3 linked regions of the Homo sapiens genome follow. The protein of the gene in region 3 purifies or fractionates together with the protein of the main gene of each other region. This does not show direct contact. Each region holds a gene or a part of one and is shown on either strand. Other genes may lie near its edges.

Evidence for each region.
Region 1: the proteins of CDO1 (region 3) and MTMR4 purify together in Homo sapiens (affinity purification with mass spectrometry; 2 studies listed by BioGRID and IntAct, with this or other methods). This does not show direct contact.
Region 2: the proteins of CDO1 (region 3) and DBT purify together in Homo sapiens (affinity purification with mass spectrometry; 2 studies listed by BioGRID and IntAct, with this or other methods). This does not show direct contact.

Annotation. Positions count from the first base shown.
Region 1 is NC_000017.11:58,497,639-58,504,677, forward strand, and holds part of MTMR4 (phosphatidylinositol-3,5-bisphosphate 3-phosphatase MTMR4), read right to left. Parts: intron 6,851-7,039; coding exon 6,665-6,850; intron 6,583-6,664; coding exon 6,412-6,582; intron 6,261-6,411; coding exon 6,106-6,260; intron 1-6,105. UniProt on the Homo sapiens protein: Lipid phosphatase that specifically dephosphorylates the D-3 position of phosphatidylinositol 3-phosphate and phosphatidylinositol 3,5-bisphosphate, generating phosphatidylinositol and phosphatidylinositol 5-phosphate.
Region 2 is NC_000001.11:100,211,835-100,218,873, forward strand, and holds part of DBT (lipoamide acyltransferase component of branched-chain alpha-keto acid dehydrogenase complex, mitochondrial isoform 1 precursor), read right to left. Parts: intron 6,914-7,039; coding exon 6,792-6,913; intron 4,366-6,791; coding exon 4,149-4,365; intron 3,150-4,148; coding exon 2,983-3,149; intron 2,117-2,982; exon of another isoform or gene 1,389-2,116; intron 1-1,388. UniProt on the Homo sapiens protein: The branched-chain alpha-keto dehydrogenase complex catalyzes the overall conversion of alpha-keto acids to acyl-CoA and CO(2).
Region 3 is NC_000005.10:115,806,649-115,813,687, reverse strand, and holds part of CDO1 (cysteine dioxygenase type 1), read left to right. Parts: intron 1-429; coding exon 430-507; intron 508-2,372; coding exon 2,373-2,527; intron 2,528-3,990; exon of another isoform or gene 3,991-4,066; intron 4,067-4,994; exon of another isoform or gene 4,995-5,238; intron 5,239-7,039. UniProt on the Homo sapiens protein: Catalyzes the oxidation of cysteine to cysteine sulfinic acid with addition of molecular dioxygen.

The DNA of each region.
Region 1 (7,039 bases), on a different chromosome or scaffold from region 3:
TGTCTTATTTGAATCCCCAGCGCCTAGCACAGTACCAGGGGCAAATGACTTGAGAAATGAATGAATGAGCTCAAAATACAACATGAGGTTTCCACTGCTAGGTGCCAATTGAATGTGTGATACACATCAGGCATCTTAGTGGATCTTCTTAGACATCCAGACAACCAGGGTCCACCCAAGACCTACTGAATAAGAATGGCCAAGAGTGGGGCCTAGGGATCTGTATTCTTTTAAGTGCCACAGCTGACTTCTTTCATTTTATTTTTTATTATGGAAACTTTCAAGCATACAAAAGAAGTAAAGAATATGCTGGGCACAGTGGCTCATGCCTATAATCTCAACACTTTGGGAGGTCAAGGCAGGCAGATCTCTCGAGGCCACAAGTCCAAGACCAGCCTGGCCAACATGGTGAAATCCCATCTCTACTAAAAATACAAAAACTAGCTGGGCATGGTGGTGCATGCCTGTAAACCCAGCTCCTACTTGGGAGGCTGAGGCATGAGAATCGCTTGAACCTGGGAGGCAAGAGGCAGAGGTTGCAGTGAGCCGAGATCGCACCACTATATTCCAGCCTGGGTGACAGAGCAAGACTCTGTCTCAAACAACAACAAAAAGAAGAATATAATTAACTTCCATGTGCTCTTCATCCAAATTCAAATAACAACATTCTGCCATCCTCCACAACTCATTCTATGTGTACCAAAGGTTAGTCAGCAATGTTGACAGAGATAATAATACCTGAGTTTACAACAAGGAGAGAGAGCTCATCCAGCTAGGAGGTCAAGGAAGGCTACAGAGAGAGGGTAGGATTTGAGATGGGTATAGAAGAATGTGTTTATGACTTTAATGGAAGAAGAAGAAGAAGGAGGAGGAGAAGGAGAAGGAGAAGCGGGGGAGGAGGGGGGAGGAGGGGGGAGGAGGGGGAGGAGGGGGAGAAGAAGGAGAAGAAGAAGGACATTTTTGATCTAGGGAAAGGTAGAATCAAAGGTAAGTCAGGTCAGTTGTTACAGAGACCATTTCCTTTAAAATCTTTATACCAATTATTTCTCGAAATCTACTCTCCATCTTGAGCTGCCTACAACACACCTCCTTCTTTGCTGTCAACTAATATTTCAATCCCAATTTCCCTGTATCTCCGCTTTCTCCCCAAACTGGCTGGTCTTCTCGACCTTTCAATGTCTATTAGTGGTACTAATATTCTCCTACTTTTTAAGCTCAGATACTTGGGACCCAAAGTACTTTTCACTTCTACTCTCCAACTTTCAATTCTGTAGCCTGCCAATGGTTCTCTACAGTGCTTCTGAATTTAATCCTTTCTCTTTGCCAGGGACTCTTCCCCTCATATCTGAACTACTACAGCAGTGCTGGCTGGTCTCTGTGCCTCCAGCTACCCTGTACTCACTGATTAGTTCTCCAAGGATCCCACTGTCAGCAGACCACAGTAACTTCCTACAATGACTTCCTATTGACAACTGAATCAAAATAAACTCTTCACTGTAATGTTTAAAGCCTTCAATGCCCTCAATGACCTGTCCTATATTTCCACTATTCCTTAAAATAGCCCCTTCTCAACCCCTGCCAGCCACAGAACTTCTTTTTTTTTTAAAAAAAAAAAAACTACCTCTCACCCAGGTGCAGTGGCTCACACCTATAATCCTAGCACTTTGGGAGGCCAAGGTGAGCGGATCACTTGAGGTCAGGAGTTCGAGACCAGCTTGGCCAACATGGCGAAACCCCGTCTCTACTAAAAATACAAAAATTAGCCAGGTGTAGTGGCACACACCTGTAATCCCAGTTACTCGGGAGGCTGAGGCAGAAGAATCACTTGAACCCGGTGGGCGGAGTGAGCTGAGAAGATCATGTGACTGCACTCCAGCTGGGCAATGGAGCGAGAAAACCCTACCTCTCATGTATCCACTTGCTTTGGACCCCTCTCCACTAACCTTGTTACTGAGCTCACAACTCCCTTTATTTCATTCATTTGTCCAGTTTTTTTTTTTTTTGAGACAGTCTCACTCTGTTGCCCGGGCTGGAGTGCAGTGGCGCGATCTCTGCTCACTGCAAACTCCGCCTTCCCAGGTTCATACCATTCTCCTGCCTCAGCCTCCAGAGTAGCTGGGACTACAGGCGCCTGCCACCACGCCCGGCTAATTTTTTTTTTTTTTGTATTTTTAGTAGAGACGGGGTTTCACCGTGTTAGCCAGGATGGTCTTGATCTCCTGACCTCATGATCCGCCCGCCTCGGCCTCCCAAAGTGCTGGGATTACAAGCATGAGCCACCACGCCCAGCCATTTGTCCAGTTTTAAGTAAATTTTTACTTTAGTAAATTTATTTAAATTTACTTATTACGTGCCAGGTTCTAAGCCAGATACACAGAACACAAAAAGACCCACAGTTCTTGTCTGGTCCTTCATGAAAATTTCCTGAGTAAAACAGCCACCAAGTGACCCTTTTAAAAAACACATCATTTCTCTAAAGCTTTGAACTACACACATTTGTTTTTTTGAGACAAGGTCTCGCTGTGTCACCCAGGCTGGAGTGCAATGGCATGATCACAGCTCACTGCAGCCTCAACCTGCTGGGAGCAAACAATCCTCCTACGTCAGCCCTCCAAGTAGCTGGGACCACAGGCGCACGCCACCATGCCTGGCTAATTTTTGCATTTTTTGTAGAGGTGGGGTTCTACCATGTTGCCCAGGTTGGTCTCAAACTCCTGGGCTCAAGCAATCTGCGCACCTTGGCCTCCCAAAGTGCTGGGATTACAGGCATGAGCCACTGCACCCAGCCTGAACTACACACATTCTTATCTGCTTAGATGTTGACTTAGAATTGTTCTCTAGTTGGCCGGGTCTGGTAATCCCAGCACTTTGGGAGGCCGAGGCGGGTAGATTACGAGGTCAAGAGATCGAGACCATCCTGGCCAACATGGTGAAACCCCGTCTCTACTAAAAATACAAAAAACTAGCCAGGTGTGGTGGTGGGCACCTGTAGTCCCAGATACTCGGGAGGCTGAGACAGAAGAATCACTTGAACCCGGGAGGCGGAGGTTGCAGTGAGCCAAGATTGCGCCACTGCACTCCAACCGGTGACAGAGCGAGATTCTGTCTCAAAAAAAAAAAAAAAAAAAAAAAAGAATTGCTCTCTCTAGTTGTTCTGTGTCTTATCTTACAGCTTAAAATTATCTTGAAAGTAGAACCAATATCTTCTATTTCTTTGCTGTAGCCCACAAAACCTAGTACAGTAATACGCAACTTGTAGGTATTAAAGAAACATTTGTTGAATTGATAAATCAGATACTAAGTTAATGAAATGATTATTAAATGGGTCACAGAGCTTATTAAAAATTTGATTAAAAGTTATGGCCCCTCTCCCAGGAAAAGTAAACCTATGAACCTGTAGCCAAATTCTGCATAGTTTGGGGAAGGAAAAAAAAAATCACTGAAATCCTGAAACCTATCACGGTCCCCTCACAATGACTTAGTTCAAAAGACCCTAAAACCAATAATTTGGGATGCTGGGCTTTTTGTTTTCCTTTATAATATTCAACCAATAACATATGTTATATTTTAACTTTAAAAACTTTCAGCCAGGCTGGGCATGGTGGCTCACACCTGTAATTCCAGTGTTTTGGGAGGCCAAGGCAGGAAGATCACTCGACGCCAGGAATTTAAGACTAACCTGGGCAACAGACCCGTCTCTACAAAAAATAAAAATTGGCACATGCCTAATGAGCTAATTAGCTACCTGGGAGGCTGAAACAGAAGGATTACCTGAGGTCAGGAGTTTGAGGTTACTATAATTGTGCCACTGCACCCAGCCTGAGTGACAGAACAAGACCCTGTCTCTAAAAAACAAAAAAGCTCTCAGCCAATAAACAAATATCAAAATTTGAGATATATATACACATATATACACGTATATATGTATATATGTGTGTATATATATAGTATACATATATACACACATATATGTATATGTCTATGTATATACGTATACATGTATATATGTATACGGATATATATACATATATGTGTATATATATATACGCGTATATATGTATATATATCCTTTGAGCACAGTATTTTCATTCAAAAATACTAGCACAAATGCAAAAATATGCATACAAAGTAACCCTACTGGCCAGGCGCAGGAGCTCACACCTGTAATCCCAACACTTTGGGAGGCCGAGATGGTGGATAACTTGAGGTCAGGAGTTCAAGACCAGTGTGACCAACATGGTAAAACCCCGTCTCTACTACAAATACAAAAATTAGCTGGGCATGGTGGCGCATGCCTGTAATCCCAGCTACTCGAGAGGCTGGGGCAGGAGAATCACCTGAACCCGGGAGGCAGAGGTTGCAGTGAGCTGAGATTGTGCCACTGCAGTCCAGCCTGGGCAACAGAGCGAAACTCTGTCAAAAACAAAAAAACAAAACAAAAAAAAAACACACAAAGTAACCCTACTAAACTATGTACTTAAAAATGGTGTAGATGGTAAATAGCATGTGTATTTTACAATTTTTTTTTTTTTTTTTTGAGATGGAGTCTCACTCTATTGCCCAGGCTGGAGTGCGTGGCGTGATCTTGGCTTACTGCAATCTCCACCCCCCCAGATTCAAGCGATTCTTATGCCTCAGCCTCCTGAGTAGATGGGATTACAGGTGCCTGCCACCATGCCCGGCTAATTTTTGTATTTTTAGTAGAGACAGGGTTTCACCATGTTGGCCAGGCTGGCCTTGAACTCCTGACCTCAAGTGATCCACCTGCCTCGGCCTCCCAAAGTGCTGGGATTACAGGCATGAGCCACCGTGCCCAGCCTGTAATTTACAAATTTTTAAAAAGCTACACATATAAGGATGTAAAGCACTCCCTGTAATGATAAAAAAAAAAAAAATGGAAATTACCTAAATGATGAGTAGGAATCTGGTTATATAAATTGTGGACTACTCTGAAGCCAATAAAAACAAGAAAGGGAATTTAGATGTGCTGTCATGAGAAGACAACCTAATACAAAGCGGGAAAAACAATTTGCAGAATATGCAAAAAAGTAAAAAGCGTATGTAAAAATATTCTGATTTTGTTTATAAAAAATGTTTCCATATGAAAGCGTGAGTGTGGATTTACCTATGTAGAGATAAACATTTGGAAAGACACGTACCAAATGTTAGCAGTGGACACCTGTGGGGACAAGGATCATAAGGGAAGATTTTCATTTTCTACTTTTATATTGACTATTTTTTTAAAACAAGAAATAGGTATTACTCTCATAAATTAACCAACATCATCTCACTTCTCCCCAAACATTGAGCCAGAAGATACCTAATTTTATGTCTCCCTTTTAAATTCTGGCCTTTTTCTGAGGGAGTAATATAAGGCCATCCTCCTGCTGGGAACCCATTTCCCTGAGAGTCAGATGTTTCTGGAAGCTAATGCTGGACACAACAAAGGTTGCTACTAATATAGCAAGCTCCCCATGCCCTGTACCAGTGAACAAAAATCAAGACCATTCCCACAAACCTTCCTAAAACAGTCCTTTCTGTTTTGTTCTCTCCCCTGCTTGGGTATATCATACAGAGTGATAGCAGCTCCTCCAGGAAAGAAAGTATCCAACCTTATCTTCAGAGGACCTTGAAAACACACAGAGTGCACTCCAGGCTAGCTACAAGTCTTGGCCAAGTTTTTCCTGCAAATGACTCAAGAAGTTGCTTTTAAATACCTCAGAAAGAGGCCGGGCACGGTGGCTCACGCCTGTAATCCCATCACTTTGGGAGGCCGAGGCAGGTGGATCATTTGAGGTCAGGAGTTTGAGACCAGCCTGGCCAACATGGTGAAACCCCATCTCTACTAAAAATACAAAAAATTGGCTGGGCGTGGTGGTCGGTGCCTGTAATCCAAGCTACTCGGGAGGCTGGGGCAGGAGAATCAGTTGAACCCGGGAAGTGGAGGTTGCAGTGAGCCAAGATTGCACCACTGGCACTCCACCCTGGGCGACAAAGTGAGATTCCGTCTCAAAAAAAAGAAAGAAAGAGAACATTTAGATGAGATGGGAAACAGTTACTGCCTTCCTAGTGGAGAGAGGAGAAAGGAAGAAGGGCTTTTCTTACCTGTCCAGAGAGCGGCCAGAGAACTCCTGGCTCTGGGCCACTGGGGAAAGGTAAAGATCCATGTTTTCTTCCCCAAGTGTGCATGGAGATGATGCTGGCAGATAAACAGCTGTCCAGAGGTGCAGGGCCCGGACATGACAAACAGGATGCAGGACCTAGGGAAGCAGCCCAATACTAGTGCTTTGTCAAGAGTTCCTTGTCCTTTTTCTTTCCCTAAGCCCTTGACTCTACATTTTCCCTACTGACTCAGCTGCTTCTCCCTATAGGTTTCTAAATAGCACCTACAGGAAAAGGGCTCAGACTCACCATGTCTGAGCTGGGTGTGTAGAGGAAGTTATGAAAGTTTTTATTGCCAGCTCGAAGGAGCGCCCACACAGAGCAGGTCCGCTTGTAGATGTTGCGCTTCTCTCGCTCACAGGGGTTGTTGGCCAGGAAGGTGCCGTAGAGGCAGGAGTATGTGTGTTGCACCAGTTTTACCTAGAAAGCAGAGAGAGCTTGCACCTGGGGGCCTCGGGCTGTCATTCCCCCCATCCCTGTTGTCACAGGCCTTAGGACTTACCAGGAATGCTTCATTAAATTCAAACAGGCAGGGGAACTGCTTAAGCAACTGATGAACAGAATCAAGCCACTGGAGGAACACAGGGCATTGTTCGTTTTGGTCCTCCACATTCTCTTGGTGGCCACAGCGATCTCCAAACTTGTGCCCAAAATCCAGCCAGTCAGACTCCACTAACACTTGGAAGCCCTGCAAAAAAAGAAACTGTTCAAACATAGGGCCTCTCTGGAAATGCTGATGTGCTACTCCCCTGGGAACTGCCCAAAGCAGGAAGCTGGCAGCTTCAAAGAAAAATAGGACTGGACCTAGAAGAGGACTCAAAGCCACCAATTTTCCAAGCCTTTGGGAGTTGGAAAAAAAAAGAAAAAAAGAGCCACC
Region 2 (7,039 bases), on a different chromosome or scaffold from region 3:
GATCTCAGCTCACTGTAGCCTCAACGTCCTTGGCTCGAGTGACCCTCCTGCCTCAGCCTCCCGAGTAGCTGGAACTATAGGCGTGTGCCACCATGCCCAGGTAACTTTTGTATTTTTTGTAGAGATGGGGTTTCACCATGTTGCCCAGGCTGGTCTTGAACTCCTGAGCTCAAGCAATCTGCCTGCCTTGGCCTCCTAAAGTGTTGGGATTACAGTCGTGAGACACTGCGCCCAGCCAACTTGAAAGTTTTAGTAAGCATTTGATTCAATAACTGTAATTTTAATAGTCTTTATCTAAAAACCCCTAAGGTTAGTCTAAACTGTTACATATAAAAATATTTGAGTATAATCCAAATTTTGTCCAAGAAAATACAAGGTATGTGTCAATGGATTAGGTCATTTGTTCCCCCTCTACAATACTGTGTAGTATTTTTTCGAATGTTCTGAAACTTATGTTTTATTTTAAAACAAAATAGCCAGGCATGCTGGCTCATCCCTGTAAGACCAGCCTGGGCAGCACTGCGAGACACATCTCTACTAAGAATAAAAAAAAATTAGCCAGGTGTGGTGGTGCACACCTGTGGTTCCAGCTTCTCGGGAGGCTGAGGCAGAGGATCACTTGAACCCAGGAGTTCAAGGTTGCAGTGAGCTGTGATTGTGCCACTGCACTCCAGCAGCCTGGGCAACAAAGTGAACCCTTTCTAAAAAAAAAAAGAAGAAAGAAAGAAAAAGGGAGATAAAGAAGAATAGTTTCTGCCTCATGAGGCTCAGCGCCCAGTAAGTGAGTAAGTGAAGAGAAAACTGAGTAAGCACTCAATGCACTGAGATAAGTTAACAGTGGGAAACAAAAGTATTTAATTCAAATAGTGACAGCCACAGAAGGAGTCTGTACCTGACCACAGTTTGGGATTTGCAGGTGTTTGATCGAGAAGAACGGGCACTTCAGGTGGAATTGTGTATTCCAGCAATTATGGGTACCTTAATATGAGGGAGTGAGGTAAGAATGGAGAGGCAGGCAGCAGAGACTTATAACACATTTGTATGCCACACTAAGGAGTATGGCATACAAATTATCCTGAAGGTAATGAAAGGGAACCACTGAAAAGAATCAGAGAATATTACAGTAATTTGATTTACGGAAGACCAGTCTTGGTGCAGTGTAGAGAAAGGACTGGACATGTTGGCATTACAGACATCAGTATGTCCTTCTGAGTAAAACAGACCAGAACCTGAAAGAGCTTCTCCACCTGTTAGCTGTAAGTCCTTAACAAGTTTCTCAACCTCTCTGAGCCCCAATTTCCTTAAATGGAAAGTGGAGACAGTAATATTTACATGTCAGGGTTACTCTGAGAATTAAGAGATAATGGGCCCTGCCCCGCGTCTGCCTCAGAGGGGCCCGAGCCACCCGGGGCGTGCGCCGCGTCCCCGCCGGGGCCGACAGAGCCGAGCCGGGCCGCCATGGACCACAAGACTCTGCTGCAGGAGCGGCCGCCCGCCTACAACCTGGAGGCCGGCCAGGGCGACTACGCGTGAGGCCCGCACGGCTACGGCGCCATCCCCGCCGCGCCCCCGCAGCCGCCCTACTCCTACCTCGTCACACGGACACCCACCCACCATCCCAGGGTCTACAACATCCACAGCTGGACCGTCATCCGCTATCCTACCAACTCTATCGTGGTCGTGGGAGGCTGTCCCGTCTGCAGGGTCGGGGGGCTGCAGGACTGCTTCACCTTCCTGGGCATCTTCCTGGCCATCATCCTGTTCCCCTTTGGGTTCATTTGCTGTTTTGCCTTGAGGGAGCGAAGATGCCCCAACTGTGGAGCCACCTTCGCTTAAAGGGAACACCAGGCTCGGCCTTTCCTACACCCAGCTCTCTTTTTCTAATGTAAATGTTGTGTTCAATAGTTTTATTTGATTAAGCTTCAGGACTGTTTTGTAAAGCGAGGTGGGACCGATGTGGCACACGCCAGCTGCGGTTTCCCGGAGCGTGGAGAGGCAGCGCTGCTGCTCCTGCCCCAGGCTCATGACAACTCAATGAAGCACTGCTTTTATTTTTTGCAGTCTTCAATTTGAGAAAGGTGAGAAATAATCTTTTCAATAAATGAGATTCATACCAAAAAAAAAAAAAAAAAAGAGAGAGATAATGTATACAGCATGCTTACTATGGAGGCTGGCACATGGTAGCTGCTGCACAGTCACTAATGTGAGCTAGACTGTATGCTGCTCAAGGTTAGCTGATGGTCTTACTCCATTTTATACTGGTCCCAAGGCTTAGCACTAGAAATGATTCCCAGGATCCTCAATATAAGTTGGTTGAGTAAATGAAAATAAATATTAAATATATGTCAGTGATATTGCAAAATTAATATCAAGTCTCATTTTAGTTCAAACCAAGACTTGGTTGGAGTGATCCTTTTAGGATCAGAGGCTTTACTTAACTGGCAGAATTGTCTCTACCTAGCTCAAAGATAAGCAGCTAAAAATATAGTACAGAAATCTCAATTTTATAATTTCCTATTGAACAAAGAAATGGCACATTTTCTAACTATCTGATGTTGCGAAAAGTAATATTTTTATTCAAGGCCACAGTCAACATATTGCATGTTGGCAAAGCAAAATTTAAATGTCCTACTTGGGGCCAGGTATGGTGGCTCACGCCTGGAATTCCAGCACTTTGGGAGGCTGGGGCGGGGGTGGATCACCTGAGGTCAGGAGTTCAAGACCAGCCTGACCAACATGGCGAAACCACGTGTCTACTAAAAATACAAAATTAGCCAGGCGTGGTGGCAGGTGCCTGTATTCCCAGCTACTCAGGAGGCTAAGGCAAGAGAATTGTTTAAACCCGGAAGGTGGAGGTTGCAGTGAGCCGAGATTGTGCCATTGCACTCCAGCCTGGGTGACAAGAGCAAAACTCTGTCTCAAAAAGACAAACAAACAAATAAATGTCCTACTCAAGCCTTGTTTGAAATGAATGAATCTCACCTTTAAGAAGAAAGGCATAAAGGAGAGTTTAATTCCACGAGCAAATGCAATGGGTTTTAATTCTTCTCGGAGCTTAACCAGTTCAGTAAGGTCAATCTCATCACAATAACCAAAATGAGGTATCTTCAGGGCTGCAGACATAGTCTTGACCATTGCTTTTTGAAAGCCTGAAAAGCATTAAATTGTTATTCATTTATTTAAATTCTCAAATCTCTTCATCCTTTTTTTTTTTTTTAAAGAAACTAAAATGGAAGGTTCTCTAATGTCTTTTACTCTCTCAGTTAAACCCTTCCTCTTACTACTCTCTTCATTACATTACACTGAAAGTCACTAATTTCAAAGCTGGAACACTGACTGCATCATGACACTCAGTGGCAAATGCAATAACATAGCAGGTAACTGCTTTAAATGCTGTGTTATATAAAAAATTCAAAAGAATGCAAGCCATGTATTTCCCTAACAGCTTTCCTGCAAAGCCACTCTTCTGGAAGTTAATCATTCCAGGAGTTTATAAATAACAAATCAGAACTAGTTATTTTGAAAGCTAACTACAAATAGTGAATGTTTAAAATGTCCTGTGTGTCTTCAAACAGAGCAATTATCAATATACAAGTTTATATTTCAAGAAACCTGCTAACGTATTACTCTTCAGAAGATAATGATACACATAAATTGTAAGTGTTTCCTGGAAAAGCTATGCTATTTCACCATTTAAAAATTATGGCCAGGCGCAGTGGCTCACGCCTGTAATCCCTGCACTGTGGGAGGCTGAGGAGGGTGGATCACCTGAGGTCAGGAGTTCGAGACCAGCCTGGCCAACATGATGAAACCCTGTCTCTACTAAAAATACAAAAAATTAGCTGAGCATGGTGGCGTGCACCTGTAATCCCAGATACTCAGGAGGCTGAGGCAGGAGAATTGCTTGAACCTGGGAGGCGGAGGCTGCAGTGAGCCAAGATCGTGCCACTGCACTACAGTCTGGACAACAAGAACAAAACTCCATCTCAAAAAAAAAGAAAAGAAAAGAAAAATTATATGCTGACTGAAGTTGAACTTTCCCTTCAGTAAGACTTGAAAACACCATATTATATACATTTATCTACTGAGGTAGCTTCCCCCAAAATAAATGAACTATTGCCTTATAGTATTGTTATTATTATCATTACCTTTTATGGGTTCTGTTTTGTCTTTGCCTGTGAATACCGGAGGTTTTGATACTAGTATAGGAACAGTCATGTCTTTTGGCTTTGGTGGAGGTGGCATAATTTCAACTTTGGGTGAAGGAGGCAATATAGCTCCTGTCTGCTTTTCCAAATAGTTGAGGATATCTTCTTTAAGTATTCTGCCATCTTTTCCTGAGCCAACAACTTCACTCAGCTTAATCTAAAAAATGATATATTTTAATGCCAAAAATACAACTATTTAAAAACATCATTAAAGTTTCAAAATGGAATTTGATCAACTGACAGTAAAATATATCTGTCCAATAAATTAGTAAAAGGAAATAACCTTTTCATTTTCTACTTAAGTAATCATTACTTTTGTATATACTGTTCACATATGCATGTGGTAACCATCAGGTATCTATATTATATATAATCTAGAGCTATTTATGAAAACTTACTTTTTAAAAAAATTTTTTGTAGAGACAGGGTCTCACTCTGTTGCCCTGGCTGGTCTTGAACTCCTAGCCTCAAGCTATCCTCTCACCTCAGCCTCCCAAAAGTGCTGGAATTACAGGCGTGAGCCACTATGCCCAGCTGAAAACTTACATTTTTATACTCAAGTATTTTAAAATCTCTTGCATAATTCTTACTCGACCTTTTCTATTCTTGGGGACTACATAAGAAGAGGGAGAGCTGAGAATTTAAGAGAAACTAAATGCTATACCAAATTTAGACCAATGTTTCTGACACTGGCTACCAGTTAAAAACGTAACAACTTAAATAATCATAATACAAAAGCTCTCTCAAATTAGTTATTTTTCTGGTAGTTGCTTTGGAAAGATCAGTACAAAACATTTAATTCTATTTAAATAAAAATAAACATAAAAGCTTGGAATGATCTCCTCATATATAGTATGTATTAATTTCTTAGGGATAGGCCCCATTTCATTTGTATTAGTGCATCTCTAAGGATGACTAAAATAATAAAGGACTTTACTAAGGCAAACACTAAGTTTGTAACAAATGGACTATGAAAATTTAAACAAATAATTTTTAGGCAGTTACAAACAACTGTAAATGCCACTGGTTCTTAATTTTAAACAAACTCAATTCATAAATATGCAAATTCAAAGAAAAAAGATGATTTCTGATAACTAAATCCAATATTTAATTTTTAGTAATCATACAAGCACTCTACCCAAGTATTCTATACCCATCTTTAGGGAGTGTTTTAGGAAAGCCAAATCATACATTTCTTCTATATATTTCTTTCTATATTATTAAGAAAAAAATTATTAAAATGCTTTATAGATTTCAAAGCAAAATGTTAAATCATTATTTCATCTGATGCCCTTAATAACCTAATGTTCCACGTTACTATATCTATTTTCTGTTATGCTAAATGGTCTTCATACTTAAACACATTTAAGGGTTACATAACATTTTATCAAGGATACATAACATAATTTGAATGTGTATGCATCTTCTAATTTTTGGCTATATAAAATACAAGGAAGAATGATTCCTAGATTATTTTCTTGGGATAGTTCCCCAGTGGCAGGATAACTGGCTGAAAGAATATGAACATTTTAATGACTCTATTACATATTTCACAAAATATAAACTTTTATTTTTTTCCCACAGCAACCTTACTTTTCTCAAAAAGAGACAAACAAAAAGTCTCATTGTGGGGCACAGTGGAAAGTATTCAGGTTTCAGAACCAGACAGATTTGTGTTCAAATCCCTAGTTCAGCTTACTTGGTTTTAGATAAGTTAATCAACCTGCCTGCAGGGTCCTTGTGAGGATTACAGATGTGTCTATAGTGTCTGGCACATATGTGCTCAAATAATGGAGGCAATGATTGTTGAGGTTTATATAACATCTAACAGCACAGGTTTTGGAGTGATATAGACTCACTTTTGAATTCTGGCTCTTGCTATGTTAGCTGTGTGACTTTAGACTAGTTACTTAAACCCTCCAAGTCTTAAAATAGCTCCTTATCTTACAGGGTTAAATGAGAATACGTAAATACCTATCCCAGTGCCAGGGAGCCACCCTGCCTGGCATTCCACCTTCCATTCAGTCAATGACTGGCAGAGGAAATACAAAAGGCCGGCCTCCTTGCCTCAAAGCAGTAATTCTGTGGTTCTCCCTTGCACCCTCAGATCAGGCCAGAGTCTTTCTTTTTTTACTTAGGACCATGGCAAGCTTTGGGACAGGCCAGATGCTTGATACCATAACCATGTCTGGCCAATTTCCCTTCTCTTCTCTTTTTTATCTTGCTTCCTTCAGTCCCTTTACAGGTTTTCCCTCCTTCAAATTCCTATCTCATGCTGTGCCTCTAGAGCACCTGACATAAGACCTGGTATTTACAAGTGCTCAGTAAATGGTAGCTCTTACTGTTATTAGGCTCTAAGAAAGAATAATAAAATCATACTGCTCAATTGATAGTAAGTAATAAGTTTACAACTTCTCATTTCTCCCATGTATTTTTATGCAACTATTGCTTTTCAGTAGCAAATATCTTCATGTTTCCTTAATTTCATTGAGCTATTTCATCATGGGATAGTTGGCTAATTTTTCAGAGATACAAATGTACACTTCCTATACAATCTCAGACTTAAATATTAAGAGAACTTACATTGTTTTCCATTGCCAGACGGCGAACTGCAGGAGTTGCCAGTGTTTTTCGGCCCTTTATCTCTTGGTGTGTATGTTCATCATGAGACACTGCAGGAGTTTCAACAACATCTTCTTCTGAATCTGGTAACAAGGTAAAACTTAACTTCAGTTGAAAAAAAATTTTTTTTTTTTACTAAGATGTAAAGTAAGGCCACTAAGATGTGGCCTATAATATCTAAATAAATTAAAGTTTATAGTCTAAATGTA
Region 3 (7,039 bases):
TTTAATGAAACCTTGTTTCTCAAGTCTTGATTTAGCTACAGGCAGAAAAAAGAAAAAAAAAAAAACAATAGCAACATTCTTGCCTCAACCAGTAATGCACTTTGGAAATACTTTCTCTGAGAAACTTACTCCATCAGTTTGAGGCTGTCACATTGAGAAACATGCAATTTCGGTTTTTTTCCTGTTATTTTTCCCGTGCCATTAATTAAAACTGAGCAGCTACCTCTGTAAATGCAGCGGTTCAAAATGAACTGTGAAAAAGGATTTTTCATTTGTGTTGGATTTCTAATTAGAAAACTGCATTCAAAGTTGCTTAGAGGTGGAAATGTTAACATTTGTGAATAAATGGTACTTGGTGACACACTTATTTTTTCCAGTGCTTGTTTCAGCAACGAACTTAAAACTTCTGAATATATTGTTTTTTTTTAGGTATACCCGAAATCTTGTGGATCAAGGAAATGGAAAATTTAATCTGATGATTCTCTGTTGGGGTGAAGGACATGGCAGGTAAAATAACTATTCATTCACAGATATTTATTAGAGCATGTTTTCTAGCATATGAAAAATATAGTACCAGGCTAGCCACAGGTCTTACAAGTAGTAACAAATCTCATTTTTTTTTTTTTTTTTTTTTTTTTTTGAGACAGTGGTTCACTCTTGTTGCCCAGGCTGGAGTGAAATGGCATGATCTCAGCTCACTGCAACTTCTGCCTCCTGGGTTCAAGCAATTCTCCTGCCTTAGCCTCCTGAGTAGCTGGGATTACAGGTATGCACCACCATGCCTGGCTAATTTTGTATTTTTAGTAGAGATGGGGTTTCACCATGTTGGTTAGGCTGGTCTCGAACTCCTGACCTCAGGTGATCCACTCACCTCGGCATCCCAAAGTGCTGGGATTACAGGTATGAGCCACCACACCCAGCCCTCATTTTCTACTTACTTGTTCACAATGTTCCCTAATCCCAACAAAAATTATCAATGGAATTAGCACAGGGCATTCAGGCATACACTACACATATTAAAACCAGCCCCCAAAATGAATAGTAAATCAAATGAGGTAAGTAACCCCCTTAAGTTAACCATACTCTGTTTTCTGTGCAGTAAAACTTTATGTGAAATTGTGTTTACACTTGACATTTGTGGTGTTTGAGGTGTGTAAACAATCGTGGGACCAAAGACCAAAGGATGGAGATTTGAAGCTAGAAAAGCATTGCAAATTCAGAAAATTTCTTTCTACTTCAAGTTAATTCTTTAGTTTCTTTACTGAAAAGGCAACTTATACTGATTCTTTGAAACTTAGCTCCTTAATTTATCTTTAGTTTCACGTTTGACAGTCTTATTATCAACTAAGTATTACTCTCTTTTGAAACATACCTTTCTCAGTCTTGAGAATGGTAAAAGCAATAATTTAGATCCATTTTTATGAAAGAAAACATGAATTTATAAGTGTTTGGAAAGTTAGGTCTGTAGAGTGCATTTATTTACTCATATGGAATGAAGTGTTTCCATTCATTCTCTCAATATTTTTGAAAGCACATTATGTCCAGAGTGGGACTAGACTCTGTGGATTTAGGAAACAAATTCTTTTTATGGTACATATATAAATTAATAAAATTCAATAGATGAAATGAATACCCAAAATGTATATAGATACATATATTTTAATTAACCCTGTAACCACGACTGCTTCATATACTTAAATACTATTCACTCTGAGATTGCATAAATAAATCCTTTGTTTCCTCAAATCCAATTAACTTTTTCCCACCAATGTTGGAAGGTAATCACAGGTAGAGCACTGTAAATTGACACAATGTTAACATTTTATATACAGTGTAACTTTAGGATGGTAATACACATATAGATACCTTCTCTCCCACAGCTCCCCAAAGGAAGGAGAAAAGACAAAAGCCTTGGGGAAAAAACATTAAATGTTAAGTGGATCTTCTCAGTGTGGTACAATTACTATGGATGATTGTCTTAATCCTTTCTAAAATTTCTCTAATGTACTTTCATAATCAAATTCTAGCCCAGTTTAAGTGAGTTATATGTATTTGGGGGAAGATAAAGTGTTGCTGGTTTTGTGTTTCTGTTATCAAAGTAGTATAACAAAGTTAAAAAAACTGTTCATTAGTAGGGGTATGCATCAAAATTGTACCTTTTATATGAATTGATATAGATGATATATTATTACTTTACCCTGAACATTGTTGAACTGTAAGTTGATAACATTTTAAAAATTCAGCTGAAATGGATTTTGGCTGGGGAGATAGCTTATTGACAGTATGCAGGTGTCAGTTCTGGGAAGACTGTTACTGCAGGTCTGGATACTAGACCATCTACTGAGTTCAGTTGTCATTTTGTGTACATATAGCAGTATTCATGATCATACCAACTCCCACTGCTTTCTGAAGATGCTACAGGGAAATCTAAAGGAGACATTATTTGCCTGGCCTGACAAAAAATCCAATGAGATGGTCAAGAAGTCTGAAAGAGTCTTGAGGGAAAACCAGTGTGCCTACATCAATGGTAACATCTTATTCTTTTTCTAAGGGCAAGTGGGAAGAACCATGACCTTTTGTCTGAAATATTGGTTACTTACACTTTTTATGCAGTAGAACCTGGATCATGAGTCATGATTTAAAATACTTGGGAAATGACTTAAACATAGCAGGTTTTGTTTTTTAAGCCTTTGTATCTTGGTTGGAATCACTTATTGAAAACATATGCATGCAGATCAGTATCCACTGAAAAGTCATTTACTTGCCAAGACTTAAGACAGTTAAAATAAAATATGAATTTACTTCAGTGGAGTCTTTCAACAAAAGAGATCAAGTTGGAAACATTAGCCTTGTGTTAGAAAATAGAACAAAATGTTCTGTAACTAATTAAGAATGCTAGCTAGTCTCTGTTTTTCTAAAATACATATAGCATACCTAAAAAGTATCCTCGAGGGAAATTTTACAAAGCACGTTATTGGCCAGTGATTTATACATATCTTACCAAGAATTCCTTATCTTTTCTAAATGGGATATGGGATAGCCAAATACTTTTCAAGAGAGGCAGTGATTAATTTCCATATTCCTAAAAGGAACAGTAACTTTCCAAAAAGCTCATTAAAATGTATATGAGACAGATAGATAGTTTTTTATTCCCTTTTACGTAGGAGGTTGCCAACACATAGGAAGATTAAACAATTTGTCCAAGGTTACTCAGCTTTTAAGTGGCAACCAGAATTTGAACCTAAGCAATTTGATTGAAAAACCTATGTTCTTCATCAGCATGTACCCCACCTATATAAAGTATTATAGAGCTTTGGGGGATTTTTTTTTGGCAAAGCAAGTTTTTTTCTCCATAAATCTTACTGGCCTCGATATTTGGCCTATATACAAGTCACTTGCAAAGATCAAATTGTATGGGAAGTTGTCGCTCATTCACATAACACAAGGATGTTAGTTTCCTATGTGGCAGGAAGCTCTGATTCATTTACCCAAATAATGTGAGGGTTGCTATCTATAAGGCACACCAGATTTCCAAGAAAATTCTGTTGTCTGTACATTCACAGTAAAGCTTTCAGAATAATTTCAGAAGTAAAGCATTCACACACCTTTCAGAATAATTACTTTCAGCTGGAGTCAGAGTGCTTGTGAAAATAGATCAGATCTTTAAGAATAGGTAAGCTTTTTAAAGGTCTTCAATGCAAAAACCTATAGAATCTCAACAGATAAGGAAGTGGTATACATCAGGGATAAAGCTGTGGTGAGGCCTGGTATGAACTGGAGTATACAAGCCTCATATTAAGGTGACAGCAGTGGCCACCCAGCTCCAGTGAGATCAACCTGGTTTCTTTTTCCATAGAAGTTGGAAATTCTGGGTTTTATATGAAATTTTGCCAATTATTAAAATATTCGGTGGGATATGTTAATTATTTCTGTAGACTAATTACCCAAATAACTTAAAAGCCACAAATTTTCAACCTCTGATTCTTACAGATGCAGGAGTAGGGGTGGAGATGGATAGTGATCAGGGGGAAGGATGTTGCAAGTACAAGGAAGAGCACAAGTGAAGGTACAATTGTTGTAAAAAATGGAAACTATTCAAGCATTGGGGGAAGGAAAGAAAGAAGAATGGGTTTGGTCAGTGGATTAGCAGGAGAGTAAAGTGAGCTCAGGGTATGGGCCTGCAAGACCAGCTAAAAGTAAGGACTTTCTTTGGTCAGCAGAGTTATAATTGGGAATATCTTGATCGATTTGGTGGCAGCATGCAACATAGGGTGGAGGAGAAGGGAGGACTGGGGCAAGGAGACCAAGTTGCCTATTGTAATGAGCAAAAGGTCGACCGGGCCTGGACCTAACTCTGCTTCATAAATACCCCCAAGAAAAGTCCAGTATTACTGTGACAGAGGGTACACCATGACCATAAAGGAAAAAGAAGCAAAGATCAAAATATAATAATAATGCCTGGATTATTAATAGGAGCTTCTCTAAAGGATGGGTGTCTTGTTTTTGCAGGGTCTTTGCTTGCAGGATTGTCAGCATGCATTAGATGATGCGTGGACCTGCAGTGTTGAACATTTGTTCAAAACTGTGCTTTAGCCAGTATATTATGAACACAACAAGCTACAGGATCAAAGAATTTGCAGATCTGAGAATTAGGCACCAGTTTTAGAAATAAGGAAAATGAAAGATCCTAGAATGTGTGGCTTGTTCAAAGATAGCATCGCTAATTACCTAGAAGTAGAACTTAAGTCTTCTGGTTCTATGCTTCATTCTTCTTTATGATGTGCACTCATGGAGCTAGATCATAAAGAAGAAAGCACAAAGCCTCATGGGGTGCCTACATTAGTTATGCTAAATTCATTACTTGATTAATCCCTGAAACTTTCTTGTAACTGTGTAAGTTTATTAACATTTTTTAATTGAGTATTTCATCTCGTTTTTTTGTTTTGTTTGTTTTGTTTTGTTTTTGTGTGTGTGTGTGTTTAATCTTCTTGAAGATCTCTCTCCCAGGGCCTCTTGACTGCTTCAGCACAGATTCGTTGATCTCTAGGCCAGGGGTGAGCTGTGATCCTGAGATTCCTTACAATGTAAGGCTTACATTCTCTCAAGCTTTCCCTTTGCTGTTTCCTGTGGCTGGATCCCCTCTTTACTGATCTCATGATTTTTTTTCATTCTTGGTTGATGCCCTTGTTTTGGTGGAGCATATGCTCCAATGGCTCCACAAGAAAGGATCCATGGAAGGTAAATTTTTGAGACCCCATATATTTAAATATCTCTATATTCAACTCCTACAACTTGATTGATAATTTAGCTGGGTTATGGATTATCACCTGATAAACATCTTCCCTCAGAACCATGAGGGTAATTCCTTTGTCTTTTAGTTTCTAGTGTTCTTATCAAAAGCCTAGGGCTGGCCGGGTGTGGTGACTCACACCTGTAATCCCAGCACTTTGGGAGGCTAAGATGGAAGAATTGCTTGAGCCCAGGAGTTCAAGAACAGCCTGGACAACATGTTGAAACCCCATCTCTACCAAAAATACAAAAATTAGCTGGGCATGGTGGCAGGTGCCTGTAGTCCCAGATACTTGGGAAGCTAAGTGGGAGGATCACTTGAGCCCGGGAGGTGGAGGCTACAATGAGCCAAGATCCCACTGCTATACTTCAGCATGGACAGCAGAATGAGACCCTGTTTTTGTTTTTTTTGTTTTTTTTTAAAAAAACCTGGTCCCATTCTGATTTTTGAATCTTTCTATTTTCTTTCTAGAAACTTTTGGGATCTTCTCTTTTGGTGCCTTCTCTCTATCCTCAGTATTCTGAAATTTCACAGTGATGTATCTTGTTTGATGACTCATTCATTGTGCTGGGTACTCAGTGGGTTTTTAAATCTGGGAATTCGTGTCCTTCGACTCAGGAAAACATTAACAGGTTATTTCTTTGAATTTTTTTTTAATTCTGTTTCTGAAACTCCTATTTAGATATTAAACCTCTTGAACTGTTCCTCTTTTTTTTTTTTCTCTTTCTTTTCTATTTTCTGTCTTTGTCCTTTTGTTCTTTGAGTCTTCCTCAGCATTTCCTGCCAACCCTTTTCTGGTTTCTGTTTCTTCAACCTCTTTTTGTTTTATGGTCCCTTTTATGGTATTTTCTCTTATTTCTAGGAAAACATTAATGATAGGTTTTTGAACACTTCCCCTGAGTAGTCTCTGTTGCAGGTTGCTTTTTTGTTTGCTCTGCCCTCTGTCTTTCATACTAGAGGCCTTGCTCAAATGTCTGGTGACCTTGGCAATGTGCTAATATTTAAAAACCAAGAACAAAAAAATTAATTGGTAACCCTGAACATGAGTGGAGCTTGTCAACTGGATTTCACTTTTTGATAGTCTGGCAGAGACTTTTTCTTCAGGAACTTCCAGCGACAATATCTTTAAAGCTTTTTTCTTGAGCCAATCAGATTCTCTGAGAAGTTGCTTCCTATCTTCTGCCTGGAAAGAAAAATCTTGTCTGGCAGCATTCTCGCAGCTAGGTGATGACTAAAGCAGGGATTTTTACCATTCAGTATGGAAGCTTTTGTTTAATTCACCTGTTTTTCACCTGATTTCCATCAGTCCCAAGTTGATCTCTTACACTCTTTCTAGAGACTAGACCTTACTCTGCTGCTGAAAAGAAAGAAGAGAGAGAATTGGTAAAAGGGTTTTGAGACTCTACTTCATAAACAAGCTTTAAACCAGTTCTTATATCTACAGCCTATCTTTACCCTCATTTCCAGAAGTACCTGGTGCTGTCAATTCCTGTGCTATTTGGAGTTTCAAGATATAAATCAGGTTATTTCTTGGTTTTCTCCATGGATAGCTTAGGATTTAGCTTTCTCTGCTCTGTAAAGCTATCCATCTTACTTTCTAAGCTTTCAAATTTTTGTTAGTGTTTTCTCTTTTCCTATTTTGTCTTTGTATATTGATGTCTTTTTTATTTTTTTACTGCCATTGGAGAGGGTTTTCAGGAAGGAGCAGAGGCTAATGCATGCGTGTCACTTACTATCTTTAACTGCAAG